Linked DNA regions of Homo sapiens: all the other regions are linked to region 3. Evidence: fine-mapped expression QTL. A gene starts in region 3. Each other region holds a variant in brackets. All regions are shown on one strand. Distances are from middle to middle. Region 1 holds the start of LOC124903374 (a long non-coding RNA gene). Region 2 has its middle 29 kb from the start of C14orf132. Region 3 holds the start of C14orf132 (chromosome 14 open reading frame 132). Region 4 overlaps C14orf132 (chromosome 14 open reading frame 132).

The links. PIP is the estimated chance that this variant, and not a neighbour inherited with it, causes the effect.
Region 1: its variant is fine-mapped to the expression of C14orf132 in sun-exposed skin (GTEx, PIP above 0.99).
Region 2: its variant is fine-mapped to the expression of C14orf132 in whole blood (INTERVAL, PIP above 0.99).
Region 4: its variant is fine-mapped to the expression of C14orf132 in fibroblasts (GTEx, PIP above 0.99).

The regions. Positions count from the first base shown.
Region 1 is chr14:96,094,967-96,097,649 of GRCh38, reverse strand. It overlaps LOC124903374 (a long non-coding RNA gene), which reads right to left and starts at 1,828. Exons shown (of 2, transcript XR_007064321.1): 1 at 1-1,828. RefSeq lists enhancers at 189-690, 2,140-2,640, 2,641-2,683. The variant G/T (reference allele first, on the strand shown) is at 1,580.
Region 2 is chr14:96,009,074-96,011,734 of GRCh38, reverse strand. No RefSeq gene overlaps it. Among named protein-coding and RNA genes, the nearest start is that of C14orf132, 29 kb to the left of the region's middle. The variant G/A (reference allele first, on the strand shown) is at 1,062.
Region 3 is chr14:96,038,163-96,040,844 of GRCh38, reverse strand. It overlaps C14orf132 (chromosome 14 open reading frame 132), which reads right to left and starts at 1,483. Exons shown (of 2, transcript NM_001252507.3): 1 at 1,318-1,483. The coding sequence starts at 1,344. RefSeq lists silencers at 1,374-1,423, 1,444-1,633.
Region 4 is chr14:96,090,273-96,092,955 of GRCh38, reverse strand. It overlaps C14orf132 (chromosome 14 open reading frame 132), which reads right to left. Exons shown (of 2, transcript NM_001252507.3): 2 at 1-2,683. Among named protein-coding and RNA genes, the nearest start is that of C14orf132, 52 kb to the right of the region's middle. RefSeq lists an enhancer at 614-783. The variant A/G (reference allele first, on the strand shown) is at 1,058.

The sequences.
Region 1 (2,683 bases), 57 kb before region 3:
CATCTCTGGGCTCTACTTGCTGCACCTCCACTCTCAGCAGCTTCTCTCACAGCGGTGAGATGGCAGCTGCCAAGACAGGCGCACATCCTCCTGGCTTTCCTTCCAGCAGAGAGACAGGGTCCCCCGTGCAGACTGCTTCCCAGTGCTCGCTTACAAGTCAGGACATCTGTGCTGCCTGCATCTGTCTGGTTGTGTAATCACTCCTGGCCCAGCCACTGGGATCAGGGGGTTGCAAGGTCACCACTGCCCAGGCCAGAGCCAGGCACACACCCTGCACATATCATTGTGACCATGGGGCATTCAGGCTACCAAGCCCAGGAGGGATCGAGTACACAGACTGCGGATTGTGGCTCCCCAAGAGGAAATAGCATGCTTTACCGAAAGGAGTGACAACAGATGCTGAGAGTCCAAGACCAGCATGCACCTGCCCCAGCAGCCATGTCTGACTTCTTGAGATAGGTGCTAGGGTGCTAGGCCCCAGCAGCACCTGCAGGAGCCACACAGGGAGGTGCCTTTCCCACTCAGAAGGCTCCAACGAGGTATAAGGCACCACCTGAGCATTCCCTGTGGGCGGCACTCTCCAGCCAGTGTCACCCTCATGCAGACTTTGGCTGGTTAACCAGGTGTCTTCTGAGACTTAATCTCAGGGGAGAACTGGGTCCTGCTGCCCCAACCATGATCATGACACAGGGACTTCGAGCCTGGACCATGAGTACCGTGGGGGCAGGAGCCAGGGTGTATCCTTGCCTGTCCAGCTCAGAGTAGAGACTCAGTGAAGGAATGGATGAATGAATGAATGAATGAATGAATGATGCTATTTCCAAAAGCACTTCTGGGACAAGACAATACTCTGTAAGAACTGAGTACAAAACTCTCTCTATCCAGAAGCTTGGGGTGGCCAGGCACGTTGTCAGGTCACCTCTCTGAACTGTCACCCTGTCCTGAGACACTGGCACCACCTCTCCCCTGGGGATAGGAGTGCCTTGATCATCCTCTCCAAAACCTCATGCCCCTCCCGCTCCAGCCCCACACTTACTTTCTGTTTCCCCCAACATTTGTCTCCATTCCATAGCGCATTCTTTCACTGTTTCTTTCTTTTGGTTTTTCAGAAAGTAAGGCTTGATCTTTATTTCTTTATTGGCTTCTTGTCTACCTTCCCTTTGCCATCAGCAGGGTGGGGCTTTGTTTTGTTCACTATACACCCTGAGTGTCTAGAACAGTGCCTGGCTCATAGCAGGTGCTCAGTCATTGCTTATTGAATGAACAAGTCGATGAACTTCAGTTTTGTTTTCTAAAAACTGGAGGCTTGTCTCCCTGGCGTTCTGGCCTGGAGTGCTAGGCTGGTTAGGAGGCGCCCCTCAGCCCCGGCGCATTTCAGCTTCTCACTATCATGCAGTTACAACCCATTGTCTTCATCTGATCCTTTGCCTCCCCCCACCCCCCACCACACAAGACAGAGAGTAGGTGCCCTGCCTGGTTGTGCTTGGGGCATGGGAGGGGCCGACACAGATCACCTGTTCAGAGGATGGAAAGCTGGAATGGAAAGTGCTTGCAAACCCTAAGGGCAGTGCGGCTCAGA[G/T]GCCGGTTGCTGTGGTAGTTAATATTATTTGTCTTGCTTGCGAAAGAGGCCTCAGCAGCTGGCGTGTATCAATATTAATCGTGGGGCCATCTCTGCTGCCTGGTAAGGCCAGCACCCTGCGGGAGCCTGAGTCACTGGAAGCCAGATGGAAAATCCCCAGCGAGGGCAGGCTTTGGAGACCATGGGTAGCAGGCAGCTAAATAAACAGGCAGCCCCACCAGAATCACTAAGGGGCCCATCTCAGCCCTAGAAACCCATCCCTCCCCTTCCTCTCCCCCTCCTCCAACCCTAAAGGCTCAGGCAGCTCTGGGGAGCGGATGCAGAGCTTGGCCATTCCAGCAGGCACCGAAGGGAGGCTGCGGTGTTCATCCCTGTCCCCCTCATTAGTTCATTTATGGAAAGCCTGACACTGTTATCCCTGGGCTGGGCACTGGGGAGGACAAAGGGGTGAGCCAGAGGAGGCATTACCCCTCCAAGAGTACACAGCTAATGGGGGACCGGCTCATCCCTAGGGGAGAGGAGCACCCCACTACCCACAGCATAACCAACTCCTGGACAGAGTGAAGAGCTGTGGTTGTTTGAACCTTTATTTCTTTACAGGCCCCACATTACAGATGGACATTCTGCTCCAGGAAAGCTGCCCATACCCTTACAATACCAGGGTTGACTAGGAATAGGCACATTGCATGAGGATGAATGTGTTTACAATCCTGATTGGTAAAACCAAAAATTCAATTAAATCAATTAAATGTTAGCAAGGAGGGTGGGGCAGGAAGTGAGGGACACGCTGTGGCCTGGGCTGGACTGGCTGTAGCTTCTTGAGACACATTCAGCAGCATTGGACCAGGGATGCCTCCTTTTCTTGAAAAACCTTGCTGCTAGCCATTTTTGCTATTTCAGAATGATGCTTATCAGTCTTGAGAACGCAGTCCTTTGGGCCATGTGAAAGCCTCTGCCATCTTTGCAAGGCACACGATTGGGAGGGAGACCCCACCTTATCAGCCACACTGGTGCAGGGCGGAGGTGCCATCCAGCGAGCGAGGGAAGATGCCAGAGGAGCAGGTTCGAGGGGCAAAATCAAGAGCCCCTTCCCAGTTCTCTTGC
Region 2 (2,661 bases), 29 kb after region 3:
TCTGTTGAAAGTTAGAACTAAAGAGTGACAACCTAGAGGAGCTGGTGGAGGAGATTTCTAAACAGCAGTGCTCAAGATATAGCCTGGCTGCTTCTAACAGCCTATGTTCAGATGTGCAAAGAAAGAAATGACTTAAAAGTTGGAATTTTGGAACAGTTGGAAACAGGAAGCAGAGGATAAAAGTTTGGAAAATTTTCAGCCTAGCCATGTGGCAAAGAAAGAAAAAGCTTTTTCAGTAGAGGAATTCAAACAGACTGTGGATCAATCATGTGTTAGAGATATTTGCATAATTGAAAGGGAGCCAAGTGCTAATATCCAAGACAATGAGGAAAAGGCCTCAAAGACATTTTAGAGATCTAAGAGGCAGCCCCTCCCATCACAGGCCTTGAGGCCTAGAAGGACTAAATGGTTTTAAGGGCCAGGCCCAGGGCCTCTATGCCCTGTGCAGTCTTGTGACACTCCTCCCCACATCTGGACTGCTCCAGCTCCAGCCTTGGCTCAAAGGGACCCAGATACAGCTCAGCCTGCTGCCTTGGCATCCTCTATGTCGTGTTTAGCCTTCAGGTGTGCAGAGTGCAAGAGTGAAGAATACTTGGCAGCTTCTGCCTAGATTTCAGAGGCTGTATGAGAAAGCCTGCATACCCAGGCAGAAGTCTGCTGCAGGGGTGGAGCCCCCAGAGAGACCTCTGCTAGGGCATTGCCAAGGGGAAATGTGGGGTTGGAGTCCCCACACAGAGTCCCCAATGGGGTACCACCCAGTGGAGCTGTGGGAAGGGTGCCGCAGCTCTCCAGAAGTGGAAATGGTAGAACCACCAGTAACTTGCAATCTCAGCATGGAAAAGCAGCAGGTACAGAGCTTCCTAAGAGCCCACTCCTTGCTCCAGTGTGCCTGGATGCAGGATATGGAGTCAAAGGAGATTATTCTGGAGCTTTAAGATTTAATGACTGCCCTGTTGGGTTTTGAACTTGCGTGGGGCCTGTAGCCCCTTTCTTTGGCTGATTTCTCCCTTTTGGAATGAGAATGTTTACCAAATGCCTATACCCCCATTATATCTTGGGAG[G/A]AAATAACTTGTTTTGATTTTACAGGCTCATAGGTGGAAGGGACTTGCCTTGTCTCAGATGAGACTTTGGACTTTTGAGTTTACGCCAGAATGAGTTAGGACTTTGGGGGATTATTGGGAAGGTATAATTGTGTTGTTCAATGTGAGAAGGACATGAGATTTTATGGGCCAGGGATAGAATGATAGTTTGAGTATCCATCCTCACTGAAATCTCATATTGAAATGTAATCCCCAATGTTGGAGGTGGGGCCTTGTGGGAAATATTTGGATAATGGGGGCAGATCCTTCATGAATGGCTTCAGCCATCCCTTTGATGATAAGTGAGCTCTTGCTCTGAGTTCACATGAGATCTGGTCGTTTAAAAGTGTGTGGCACCTCCCCCTCTCCATTCTCTCTTTCTTGCTGTTTCTTTCACCATGTGACATGCCTGATTACCCTTTGCCTTCTGCCATGATTGTAAGTTTCCGGAAGCCTCCCTAGAAGCTGAGCAGATGCCAGCACTATGCTTTCTGTAAAGCCTGCAGAACCGTGAACCAATTAAACCTCTTATCTTTATAAATTACCCAGTCTCAGGTATTTCTTTATAGCAATGCAAGAATGGCCTCATACAGTGAGAAAATGCCAAAGTATAAGTGTCTGTACCATTTGCATTCCCAACAGCAAGGTATGAGAGTTCCAGTTGCACCTCATCCTTACCTAAGCTTCCTGTCATCAGGTTTGCTTTTTATAAAGTTATGTTAATTGGTATGTAGCTTTATCTCATTTTGGTCCAAAATTCTATTTTCCTCATGACTAAGGACATTGAGCATCTTTTCATATACTTATTTGTTATCTGTATATCTTCTTTGATAAAAGTTCCCATTTAAATATCTTGTCTATTTTAAAAGTTGTTTGTTTATTGAGTTTTAAAAGTTCTTTATACATTAGAAACAAGTCTTTTACCTGACATGTAATGTCAAACATTTCCTCCCAGTCTGTGGCTGGTCTTTCCATTTTTTAAAGTGTCTTTCAAAGGGCAGAAGTTCTTAATTTTGATTAGGCCCTATTTATCATATTTTCTTTTATGGGTCATGTTTTTGGTGTTGTATTTAAGAAAGCTTTACCTAATTAAGGCTATAAAGATTTTCTCCTATTTTTTTTTCCCAAAAGTATTGTGGTTTTAGGCTTTACATTTAGGCCTGAGATCTATTTTGAGTTAATATTTCTATAGTGGGTAATGCATGCCTTGAGGCATATCCATTTATTTGCCTAGGGATATTCAATTGTCCAAGAACAATTTGTTGAGAAAAACTATCATTTCTCCATTAAGTTGCCTTTGGGACTTTGTCAAAAACCAAATGACCACATGTGTATTGGTCTATTCTAGTCTGTTCCACTAATCTAGATGTTAATCCTTTTCTAATAGCAGATTCTCTTGACTGCCAGCTTTATAGTAAGCCTGAAAATCTGGTAGTGTGAGTCTTCCAATTTTGCTACTTTTCTTACAATTTGTTTTGCCATTCTAGTTATTTTTTAAAATTTCCATAAAAATTTTAGAATTACTTTGCCAATTTCTACAAAAAAGTCCTGCCAGGATTTTTAAATTTATTTTTATTTTTAT
Region 3 (2,682 bases):
TAGCTAAAACCATCATTATCTAAAATGATGTTTACATGACAATTTTTATAAGTATGGATTTAGGCACAGGAGATGTAAAATCAGGCAAAAAAAAAAGGGCCAGCGATACTCAGAAGGGCAATTAGCATCATGGAAAACTTAAGGGGCTGCCGGAGAGCCAGGATCTAGACCCCCAGAACTAACTTGGGGCTTCCGCATCTTTTAAGCCTCCATTTGCAGACTCGCTGTCCACACACAGTCTGGATTTTGCTGTCACTTTTTAAACAGGCTTCCACTACAGGTGAAGCTTGGGGAAAAAGCAAGTGTCCCCTCAAACTTCGTTCCCTGTAAAAGAAAACAGCAGCAGATGGGGTCCCTGCCACACACCCTGGAGACAGAAGGGAGCCTGGGTGGCCTCCCGACCTCTCTGCTCCCACCATAACCAACCAACACAACCAGAGAAGGTGCAAGATGTGGCTTTGGTAGATTGGGACTTACTCTCCCAGGCCAAACGCAGCCCTTCCCTGGAGCCAGCTCTGGGTCTTCTCTAGGGTCACAGACTGATGGAGAAATCCGGGATTTGTCTTTGTTCTGGCTCAAGAGAGTTAAGGCACAGAAATAGAATCATCACCCAAGCTCAGAACTCCAGGGCATTCTGCCGGAGGAAAATTCAAGCTGTGAGAGATTTGTTTTTCCGGCCACTGGGAGCCTGTTTGTGTCGGGGAGGGGGGTGGGGGGGTTCTGGCCGCGCTGGGCACTGGTGGCTCCATCAGACTCTACACAAAGCAAAACAGGACAAACGACCGCGGCGCGTCGACGCTTGGCGGGTCACGGTCACAAAGCGGGTCTCAGAGCCTTCCTCAGGCGGCGGCAAAGGGGGCGCCCGAGGTCACCGGCAAGAGACAGATTACTGGCGCCTCGGGAAAACAGAGTGGGGAAGGGCGAGACTGTGTGCCCATCCACGTTCGCGCGGGTCTGAGCTGGCCCGGCCTTGGAGGGCTCCGGGACCCCAGAAGGGGGACAGCAGTGGGGGATGGGCAGAAGGGGGCGACTCGGGCTGCCCAGGCTCCTCGCAGCCTTCCTGCCAACGAGAGGGGCCCGGGCGGGAACAGCTCGAGCCGCGGGGGTGCGGGGCGCGCAGCCCGCCCCACCCCGGGAGAGCCGCGATCGCCGCCCCCGACGCGTGCACCAAGTGGGGGTGTCCGGCTCGGGACAAAGGACCGGGACGCGGATCGCGGGCGGGCGCCACTGCCCAGCCCCAGCGTGGAGGGCGAGACCGTGGCCCCGAACCTCCCCAAACTTGGCGGCCCGGGGCGCGTGGGGGGGACGCCCCGTTACCTGCGCGGCCATAAAGGAGAGATCCATGGTGTCGCTGCAGCCAGCGCTCGAGTCCTCGCTGCTGCCGCTGCCGCTGCGGGTCAGCCGCCTGCACAGTTGGCGGGGATCGGGCTGAGCAGCGAGCGTCCGGAGACCGCACGGCGCACTCGGCTGTCTCTGGGCTTCTGGCTCCAGATCTCTACTAGGCGGAGGGCCCCGAGCGCGGGGGCGGGCGGGGCGGGGTGGGGCGGGGCTCGGCGGACGGGGCGCCCCTCCACGTGACCACTCCCCGCCCCACCCCCGGGGCGGGGTCCGTCAGAAACCCCAAGCGCTCGCAATCGCCTCCCTTCGTGGGCGGGATGGGGAAACTGAGGCCCGAGGCCGCCCCGCTGGTTGGTGCAAGAACCAGCCTGCAACCCAAGTCCTGAGCTGTTGGCGCCCCGCCCCGTGCAGTTGAACCCAACCCACCCGGGGCTGTGGGCAGCGCTCTCTTGGGGCTGACACGTTATCCCGAGCCTGAGGACCAAGATCGGAGTGACCTGGCTTTCCACGCCAACGCTCCTCCCAGAGTCCGGTGTACTCCCGGCTCGGCATCTGGGCAGAACGAGGTTTAATCCTAGCCCTGCTTTGTTGTGCAGCTTGAGCAAGATAGTGTCTTTGAGCCTAGATTTCCTCATCTGTGAAAAGAGAATACAGAACCGAATAATTAAATGAGATAGGGAATATAGCACGCGGTGTCCTCAATAAATGAGAGCCCTAACATGGCTAATCATCCAATAGAGACGAGGCTGTGAGTGGTGTCTTCGAGGACCGCACGGTGCTCAGGTTGCACAGCGGGTACTCCATGGCTCTCAGCTCAAACCAGTATCGAAAATCATGCAGGTGCCACAGTTCAAGTAAGGGGAACAGAAGAGACGCCCACAGGGGCCCATTGCTCTGTATGTGTGTGTGTGTGTGTGTGTGTGTGTGGTGGACACCACAGACTTGGTGACACGTGGAGGCTTTGCCCTCCGGGGGCTCACTGGGAGGGAACCAGCTGTACTCTAAGGAGTCTCAGTGAGTACGACTGGTCCCTTTGGGTGATGTCTCTTCCAGGTACTTTACACTCATGGTCATCACGAGCCTCTGTGAGGGGCAGCCTGGGACTCCCAGACTTTGTCACAGGCAAGGAAGCTGTGGCACAGGGAGATGGAGGGGTTTGTTCAAGGTCCCCCGGCAGCTGGGGGCCCAGTAGGGACTGTGGCTATGGGAATGGGACCAGAACCTCACTGACCTACAGAAGGCTTTCAGTGTTATCTTTCCTGTAACTTTCCTTTCTTTTCTTTTCCTTCCCTTCCTTTCTCCCTCCTTTTCTTCCTCCTCTTCCTTCTCTCCTTCTCTCCCCTT
Region 4 (2,683 bases), 52 kb before region 3:
TTCTTATTTGTGGGGGGCTGCCCTGTGCATTGTAGGATGTTCGGTGGCATCCCTGGCCTCCACCCATGAGATACCAATAGCAGTCCCCACCAAGCTGTGAGAATCAAAAATGTCTCCAGACATTGCTGATGGCCCCCAGCCCTTCCTTGAGAACGACTGGCCTCATGAAAGCCACCACTAAGTCTCCTAGTGAAAACTCGATAGTTAGGTGTCCTGGGCTCAAGACCCCTGTCTCCTGAAAAGCTCCACCTGGCAACACTCTCAAGCCTCTCAGAGATTCATTTTCCTCAAGTTAAAAGGTTGGAAGCTCCCTTCTGCCAGCATATAGAGCCCTTGTCAGAACCATCTGCATTGTTGGGACAACGCTTCGAACGGCAAACGCAGTAATGGTGTGGTTCTTTAAGAAACTGGGAGAAAGACAGCCAGTGAGACAGATACAGGGGACACAGGGGTGTTGCTCAGCCACGTGGATGGGGCTCGGTGTGGAATGGGCTCTGATTCCCCCAATAATCGAGGCCTGCAAATTCCCTGCAAATATGCTGTGCACATCTGTCAGGATTTATTTCCAAGGCAGAATGGGGCTCAAACCTCCTCTTGGGGAGGCAGGAAATCAGCTTGAAAAAGGACCCAAGAGCAGATGACAGCCTTGCCAAATGTCTGGATGGAGCCATCCGGGCAGGCGCGAGGCTGCCGCCACGGTCAAAAGACCAGCATCCAGAATCCCCCGGGGACCGCACCACCTACGCAGCCTCTCCGAGGACCAATGTCCACGTCATTCTCTGCTCTTTTCTATCTTGATAATAAATGCATGACTTCTACAGTGACTCAGAACACATCATACACTTTTATTTCAGAATTTATGGCGTCCATTTTGTGTACTTTTTGGCTCTTCCATTCTGCTTCTGGCAGTAACTGTTTTCTCGCTCCAGGGAGTCTTTGATCGTCTTCAGTCATGAAGATTTGCATTGTTTTGTCCTTTGTCACTTTCCCTCTTCCTCAAAAAGAAACCCAGTAAATGCTCAAGGTCTGAGCTCAGAAGGACGCGCTGGGAATGAGA[A/G]GGTGCTGTGATAATTCTGGTTATCCAGATTTTTCAGAGAGGTCCCTTTTCCTGCTTGGAAGCTGTGGGCTCTGTCCTCTGGGTTCTCAGTACTCAGTTCAACCACCTTCTCCTCCATCCCTCTCCGTGAGTGACCATGGTCAGGGGCCTGTGGAGTGGGCCAGGGTGGGTGGGGCTGGGGCAGGTGAACATAGAACATTCAGGATCTGGCTGTTCCCTTTGGCTCCCTGAGCAGAACTCCCTGGGCCTCCCTGTCATAGCAGCTCAGCCCAACCCTGGCACTTGCTCGGGGACAATCACTGGGCATCTGCCAGGACGAAGCAAAGCGGGCCGATGGCAGCTGCAGGGAGCACAACCCACCTCGGGGCTGGGGCAGGTAATCCCGGGCAAGCCCTTTGCTTCCCACTGAACGCACAACGTGCTGGACCACGGACCCCTGGGCCAGGAGCCCAGACACTTGTCAGCTCTCCACTAATTTTCCACACGGCCTCAGCTGCTCTCCCCGAAAAATTAAAGGTCTCGATTAGATGCTCTCTAAAGCCTCTTATCACTGTGAGGTTCTGGAACTGATAAATCCCTGTGCACTGCCGCCTGCCCCTTTCCTGGACTTACACTTGAATGTGGCAATCTGGCTATAAGCTCTTCAGGACCAAATCTCAACCCCAGCCTCCGAGGCCTCATATCCCGAGATGGTCCATCCCAGGGGGATCACCCTGGTGGGCATGATGCAGGGTGCCTCTAGAGCTGACAGAACTGGGTCTGAATCACAGCTCCTTAGCTGTGAGCGTTCAGCCCTGGCCTCAGTTTTCTCCACAGAAAAATGCGACAGTAATTAACGTGCATCTCTCTGCATCCTCATTCCTGCCCCCAGGGGCAATTTGAGAAGTAAATGAGACACAAATAGAGCAACAAAAAGATGTGCAAAACTGGCACCGGTAAGAATAATAACTGGGAATAATATTACTGCTAATAATGAAGGCAGATGATGCTTCTGAAGAAGGAAAGTGCCATTTGTCTTGCAGGGATCAGGCAGCAGTGCTGACAACAGACAGACTCCACTGAGCCTCTTCGGTCTCCAGGGACCCACTTCAGGAGACGCCAGAGTGGTCTGGCCAGCCTCCAAGCCTTCCAGCTGAACCGGGGCTGGAAAAGCATCTGCTGCCTTTCCAGCGAAATGCTGCTGCCCCTCCTCCCATCCTTTCTCCCTCAGATCCTGGGGGATCTGAAAGGAGCGAGAATCATTTCTCTCTGGGGGGTAGAGTGGAGCAGGGAGTCTTATTTGCCTCTTGACCTTGATTTCATGGGAAAGGGGAAGGACAGCATTGGCTTGGAGTAGGAAGAGCTGCGCCATCATCCTGCCTGGGTCCCTGGAAGCACAAGTCCTCTTAAGACAGGCCTGGCTACAGCGGCGTCTGGCCTCTTCTCAAAGACCTTCAGTGGTGGCCACTCACAACCTCACAAAGCAGTAAGTTGCTCTTTTTTTTTTTCTTTTCTTTTTTTTTTTTTTTGAGACAGAGTCTCGTTCTGTTGCCCAGGCTGGAGTGCAGTGGCACAATCTCAGCTCACTGCAGCCTCCGCCTCCTGGTTCAAGCAATTCTCCTGTGTCAGCCTCCTGAGTAGCTGGGA